2 linked regions of the Homo sapiens genome follow. The protein of the gene in region 1 interacts with the protein of each later gene in a pairwise test. Each region holds a gene or a part of one and is shown on either strand. Other genes may lie near its edges.

Region 1 (3,540 bases):
GAGTGCAATGGTGCGATCTTGGCTCGGCACGATCTCGGCTCAGCACGATCTCAGCTTACTGCAACCTCCGCCTTTCGGGTTCAAGCGATTCTCCTGCCTCAGCCTCCCAAGTAGCTGGCATTACAGGCATGTGCCACCACGCCTGGCTAATTTTGTATTTTTTGTAGAGATGGGGTTTCTCCTTGTTGGTCAGGCTGGTCTTGAACTCCCAACATCAGGTGATCCGCCCACTTCACCCACCCAAAGTGCTGGGATTACAGGTGTGAGCCACCACGCCCAGTGGTGTATGGGTTCTTTTATATGAAATGTCTAGAACAGGCAAAGCCATAGAGACAGAAAGTAAATTTGTAGTTGGGTAGTGGGCTAAGAGGTAGAGGGTTTCTTTTTGGGGTAATGAGAATGTTCTGGAATTAAATGATGATTGCACAACTCAATATACTAAAAACCAGTGGATTATATACTAAAAAGCGTGAATTTTTTCTGGCGTTTGACTTACATTGCAATAAAACTGTTATAAAAATAGTAAAATTAGGTCACTCCTAATCTCAGGCACTCCCTGCTTAAAATGTATCAGTGGTTTCCTATTATATTTCATATAAAATTCAGATTCCTTATCATGACCTTCAAGACCCTATGCAACCGACCCCTGCCTTCCTCTGATCTCTGCTTCACCCATGTGCTCCAGCCACACAAATCTTACTATTCATTAGAGATGCCACTTTGGTTTGGATGTTCTCATTCATGTCTTCCTTTCTAAAGTGTTTCTTCTCAGTACATATATATTTACTTTTTCCTTCTCATTCACTAGTATATTCCATAAGGGTAGGGATGCTGTCTCACTTACTATACTCCCAACATTTATGACAGATTCTGGCACATGATATCTACTTAATAAATTCTTTTTGAATTAATTAAAAATACTGTAGAGTTTTAGTTATTTTTAGTTATTGGGGTGAAAGGATCACTTGCAGCCAAGAGTTCAAGACCAGCCTGGGCATCATGGTGAGACCGCATCTTTAAAGAAATAAAAAACAGGCCAGGCGCAGTAGCTCACGCCTGTAGTCCCAACACTTTGGGAGGCTGAGGTGGGCGGATCACAAGGTCAGGAGTTCGAGACCAGCCTGGCCAATATGGTGAAACCCTGTCTCTACTAAAAATACAAAAATTAGCTGGGTGTGGTGGTGGGCGCCTGTAGTCCCAGCTACTTGGGAGGCTGGGGCAGGAGAATCACTTGAACCCGGGAGGCGGAGGTTGTAGTGAGCCGAGATCGTGCCACTGCACTCCAGCCTGGGCAAAAGAGCGAGACTCTGTCTCAATAAATAAATAAATAAATAAATAAATAGAAGGAAATAAAAAACAATTAGCCGGGCATGGAGGCATGCTCCTATAGTCCCAGCTACTTGGGAGGCTGAGGCAGGAGGATCACTTGAGCTCAGGAGTTCGAGGCTGTAGTGAGCTATGATCAGGCCACTGCACTCCAGCGTGGGCAACAGAGTAAGACTTTGTCTCTAAAGAAAAGTCACTAGAAATAGACTTACTGACATACACACGCAAAAGGCTATACAGAATCCCCTAAAGAAGCAAACAGTGACAGTGGAGTGGCAAATGGAGACATTGCATTTGAACTTGACAGATTGTTTTTTTGCAGCCAAGTTATCTGTATAGTCTTCTAATTTCACTGTGGTTTTTTATTGATGTTATGATTTTTTCTTTTTCTTTAGGGGCCTTGGACAAGTTGTTACTGACTATGTTCATGGGGATGCCTTGCAGAAAGCTGCCAAGGCAGGGCTTTTGGCACTTTCAGCTTTAACCTTTGCTGGGCTTTGCTATTTCAACTATCACGATGTGGGCATCTGCAAAGCTGTTGCCATGCTGTGGAAGCTCTGACCTTTTTGACTTCATACTTTGAAGAATTGATGTATGCCTCTTTGCCTCTGCTTTGTCATGCCATTAAGCTCACAATAAGGAAGAAATAACAGATAAGTCCATTGGTGGACAGCCTTCTTCTCTTAATCACAAGATTATTTTCAGAATTTAATCTTTGAGGAAAAGGTTTGAGAGGAATTATATCTAAGTTGTGAGACTGAGTTCTATATTCTGGTGAGTTAATGGGGTTGCCTCCCAGCTTCTTATAAGACTCACAGTATAACTAAACATGATATATCAGCTTTTGCCTTTCAATTTATCAATCTCTTAAAGAGAATCCAACTTTATTACGATTAGTATATGATCAAACTTCCATATTTGCCTTGGGAATAATGGACAAAGGGAAATACTCTTAATTCATGAATAAAAACTTTGCAGAAAATTAGACAGTGTTTAATTTTCGAAAACTTCCCTCTCTAGACAGTAGATACCACCTACTGATGGTTACATATACTAGGGAAATTTTAAAATTAGGAAATGCTGATAGCTCATATTATAAATTTCTAAATCCTAGGAAGAAACGCTTGGAGTGCTTCTGAATATACAGAAGTTCCATTTAAGGGCAAGTTTCCCTGTAGATGTATCAAAATACTACCAACTGTAAATTGAGATTTAATTCCCAAATGTATTCTACTTGTTCTAAAACAATCTGTCCACAAATATAAAACTATAAGTAATAAATTGTTATTTTCGCACAATGGGAATCTCTAATGTGAAAATGTATTCTATGAAAATAATTTTTTTAAATAAAATGTTATATAATAAAAGTGTCTTCTATGCTTTTATATATTAGCTATCAGTAGTTTTATTCATTAGAATTAGGTGTCCATTGCATCCACAGCATGAAAACAAAATTGGGTTTTTTTTTTTTTTTGAGACGGAGTCGCACTCTGTCACCCAGGTTGGAGTGCAGTGGCGTGATCTCGGAGCACTGCAAGCTCCGCCTCCCAGGTTCATGTCATTCTCCTGCCTCAGCCCCCCGAGTAACTGGGATTACAGGCACCCACCACCACGCCCAGCTAATATTTTGTATTTTCAGTGGACATGGGGTTTCACCGTGTTAGCAAGGATGGTCTCGAACTGCTGACCTCGTGATCCACCCATCTTGGCCTCCCAGAGTGCTGGGATTACAGGCATGAGCCACCCCGCCCAGCCAAAATTGAGTGTTTAAATTTTCTTCTGGGGCTTAGCAGTTAGGTAAATCAGACACAAAGTACTGGAAAACAAAAAGGACTTGTAATAGGCAGAAAAATACCAAGTGTATAAGTAATTTGGTATAAACAGAGTATAAGGTTTAGTATTTAGGAATAAGAACTATGTCCAGATTATGGTGTTCTGTGAATACCAGCCTTTGGAATTCATATTATGTTCTATGTGTATTTAGTCTGGTCTAAGAGTTGAGTGTAAGGCATGATGCTGTCTTCTATCAATATAGAGTAACTGGGACTAAGCACATTTTACTCACCAAGGACCTTACTGGGAAGCTGAGGCAAAGGAAGAGTATGTGTTTATGAATGTGTACTAGGGGTTAAAGACATGCTCTCCTTGATGTGCCTGTGGTCTTGTAGAGACTCAAGTGTGCATTAGGGTTTAGGAAGAGGTGATTAATTCTGT
Region 2 (3,829 bases), on another chromosome or scaffold:
TGACTGTGATTTGGGAACGTTTTCAATCAAGCTCCAACTTACTACTGTCTTCATCATGACCCATTATGCTGTAACTGCAGTCACACCTTTATATATTGAATGATTTTACTTTCAAAATTACTTTTTATAAGGCCAGGCATGGTGGCTGATACCTGTAATCCCAGCATTTTGGGAGGCCAAAGCAGGTGGATCACTTGAGGTCAGGAGTTCGAGGCCATCCTGGCCAACATAGTGAAACCCTATCTCTACCAAAAATACAAAATACTAGCCAGGTGTAATGGTGCATGACTGCAATCCCAGCTACTCTGGAGGCTGAGACAGAAGAATTGCTTGAACCCAGGAGGCGGAGTTGCAGTGAGCCGAGATCGTGCCATTGCACTCTAGCCTGGGCGACAGAGTGAGACTTCATCTTAAAAAATAATAATAATAAAATTGTAAAACAAATACCCTCAAATGAGACTTAATATTTTAAGCAATTTTCAGTCAACACCATTCAGAGATTAGTAAAGGACCTAGAACTTTAAGCAACCATTTGCAGCAGTATTTCTTAAAGAATACTTTGAAATACATTTAGGTACATAATCTTTTTTTTTAAAAGGGTTGTGTAATTGATTAGGTTGAGAAAACAGAATTTTGACATACTAGAACTTTCTCTCCTATAGGCCTTTGCAAAAACCTTTAAACAATAGTGTATAATGTCATTTTTAAAGAGGGGGATATCATATACTACATATTTTTCAGATTTACTTAATTATTAAAAACTTATTTTTATTTAATTTTTAGGTGGAGCACTTCATGAGAGTGGTATTCAAGATAACTTACTTTAAGAAGCACTTGGCTAAACTGAAACACAAGGCTGTGCTGAAAGAGGATTATAAGAGTAAATGCCCCTCTAAAAAAATCAAACAATAGCTAATAGAAGGAATGGGAATGTTGGAATAAAACCATTCTAATGTTACAAAACCACAAAAAGGAAAATCAATTCTTATGATAATTTTGCTATATTAAATTATATCTGCATTTTTAACATAATTTGCTAAGCTTGGCTTCGTTTCGATAAAAAGCAAAAATTGATAATTACCCTTGAAATTAAAAGTAGGCAAGTGGACAACTTTTATATTTTATAAAATGTTCATTTATGATGTCTTTCAAAGTTTATATCTATCTCTTTACATTTTGTAGTGATTGGATAATAGAAAATAATTATATCAATTTCCTTGCTATTTCATTTATTACTCATTGAAAAATTATCCATATGCACCAAAAATATTATAGGAGCAGAGTATATATTAATAAATGCTTGATAAATTTTTCCCTCTTTGCACCTCTTCAATTCTCAAATATCAGGCCTTTCTAAATAGGTCCTATATTTTTCTGTATCATAGAGCCGTGTTTGGTTTTTTCGTAGTATATACATTACGTAAATACTGTTTGTTTACGTGCTTATTGTTTTCTCTATTATACCATACATTCTGATGAGGACCAGGAATCTGTTTTGCTAGCCAAACCAGGACTCTATTTTGCTAACCATCACGTATTTTGCACCTAGCATAGTGCTGGTACACAGTAGAGAGCTTGGTAAATAGAATTGAAAGAATGAGGGAGAGAGGGACAATGAATAAGCTATGGTCTCTGAGCTCTTATATCCCAATTTTCTACACTCTGTCCTCTACTTCCTAGTCTCCCACCTCTTTCAACTCTTACTCTAGGTATAAGTATTTCAGTATATTAATTTGCCAGTGCTTCCAGAGTCGGGAAGCTGTTTTTTTTTTTTTTTTCTCCCTGGTTCTATACCTGCCTGTGAATTTTTCTTTTTTTTCTAACTTTGAAAATCCAGTTATCTCGGTCCTCCAAAATGCTGGTATTCCACAGGGTTCTGTCCATAGTCTTTATAGTCTCCTTGTTTTATCCATCCAATGACTGAATTTGAAAGATTCAACTTTATGGGACTAAAATAATGCCTGGCACATACATGGGGGCACTCAATGAACCTTTGTTAAATGAATGTAGACTACACCAAGATCTTTATTTCCACACAGATAAGTCTTCTGAGTTTCAGACTGATATGTCCAACTGTTCATTTCCATTTGAATTTCCCACAAACACCTACAATTCAACATATCCACAATGACACTTCTCATTTTCTCACTCCCCATCCTTCAAACACATTCTCCCTTTGTAGTTAATGTAAACATCTATCTACTCAGTTGCCCAAGACAGAGACCTAAAGGTCAGCCATGATTCCTTTTTCACTTCCAATATAAGTCCTATTATTCCTAGGTCCTTCATATCTTTAAAATTTGTCCCTTTTTCTCTGTTTACACATGACTACCTTGATTAAGTTCCTCACTATTTCTCACTTGGCTACTGTATGATCGATCTTTTTCTGATCCACTCCATACCATTGTCATAGCCCCTTTTCTACAGTGTAAATCTGATCACATAATTGTCCTTCTTATACTTCTTCAGTATAGTTTTTAAGAACTTCCCATAGTTTTAAAGACCAAATCCAATATTTTCAACATGTCATAAAAGACCCTTCATCATCTGGTCCCATTTCACTTCTCCAATTTAGTTTTTTGCCACTCCACCCTTCTTCTTCCTATGTATTTAGTTCCCCAAACACAGAAGTGCTTTAACACTTGCTTGCAATTTAACCTGGAATGACCCTCTCTGCTTGTCTTGGATACTTCTAGTCTTCCTTCATGGAAGATGTCAGTTCTTCTAAGATATCTTCCCTAGGACACTAAACTGGATTAGATAATATCTCCCTTTTTATAGTACATCTTAATTTATATATTGATAATTTCTTCACTTATTTATCCCCTTTATTACACTAGATTTATCTTGAAGGCAAGATGTATCTTATTGATCATTGTATTTATGGACTTAGCACATGCCTGGCACAAACTGGCACTCAATGGATGTTAAATTTAATAAGTCCCTAGACTTAAAGAGCTTACAAGCTATTAGATGAGAAAAAACAAGTTAACAAAAAGTGCAATAAAGTATTATAGATGCTTGAATGATACCTCTCCAAAATATAATTGAGATTTTAAAAGTAAGTGGGGTGATAATTTTTTTTCCTAGAGGGATTGGGAAAGTCTTCTTACAGGAGCTGATCCTTGAGTTTATTATTGAAAAATGAATAAAGATTTAAGTTTTCATTTTCCCTTATCTCTTTTGCAGTTTGGCTCATGGAAATAAGCCCTATTGACTGCTGTGGTCTAAACGTTGGTGTCCCCCACCCAAATTCATATGTTGGCACCTAAAAGGAACCAAATATGTTCACTCCAACCTCTTGAATGGAATTAGTACTTTTATAAAAGGGGCCTGAGAGAGCTCCCTTGCCCCTTCCATCATGTGAGGATGCAGCAGCAAGATGCCATCTATGGAGCAGACAGCAAGCCCTTACCATACACTCAATCTGCCAGTGCCTTGATCTTGGACTTCACAGCCTCCAGAACTGTGAGCAATAAATATCTGTTGTTTATTTACCCAGCTTAATGTATTTTGTTGTAGTAATCTGAATGGGCTAAGATACCCTATTTTACCAATACTCTGAGAATTAAATAAAAGAATAAATGCAGAATTACTTAAAAATACAAATAAACACTTAGAAGCAAGCCATTATTAGTAAGTGATTAGACACAGAAAGAAGTCCAGGACTATGAGACATTCTTGCTGTTACTGATTTGGGTTATATGAGGAGTTAGCATATTGTAGAGGGCCAAGCAGTAAATATTCTAGACTTTTTTGGCCATATGGTCTTCATTGTAATTATTCAACTCTGTCATGGCACAAAATAGCCAAAGGCAATATGTCAATG

The links.
Region 2: the proteins of SDHD (region 1) and SLC13A1 interact in a protein complementation assay, tested with the Homo sapiens proteins (one large-scale study listed by BioGRID).

Annotation. Positions count from the first base shown.
Region 1 is NC_000011.10:112,093,084-112,096,623, forward strand, and holds the end of SDHD (succinate dehydrogenase [ubiquinone] cytochrome b small subunit, mitochondrial isoform a precursor), read left to right. Parts: coding exon of another isoform or gene 1-114; exon of another isoform or gene 115-126; intron 127-1,721; coding exon 1,722-1,887; 3' UTR 1,888-2,711; downstream 2,712-3,540. UniProt on the Homo sapiens protein: Membrane-anchoring subunit of succinate dehydrogenase (SDH) that is involved in complex II of the mitochondrial electron transport chain and is responsible for transferring electrons from succinate to ubiquinone (coenzyme Q).
Region 2 is NC_000007.14:123,172,209-123,176,037, forward strand, and holds part of SLC13A1 (solute carrier family 13 member 1), read right to left. Parts: intron 1-3,829. UniProt on the Homo sapiens protein: Sodium:sulfate symporter that mediates sulfate reabsorption in the kidney and small intestine. Can also mediate the transport of selenate and thiosulfate.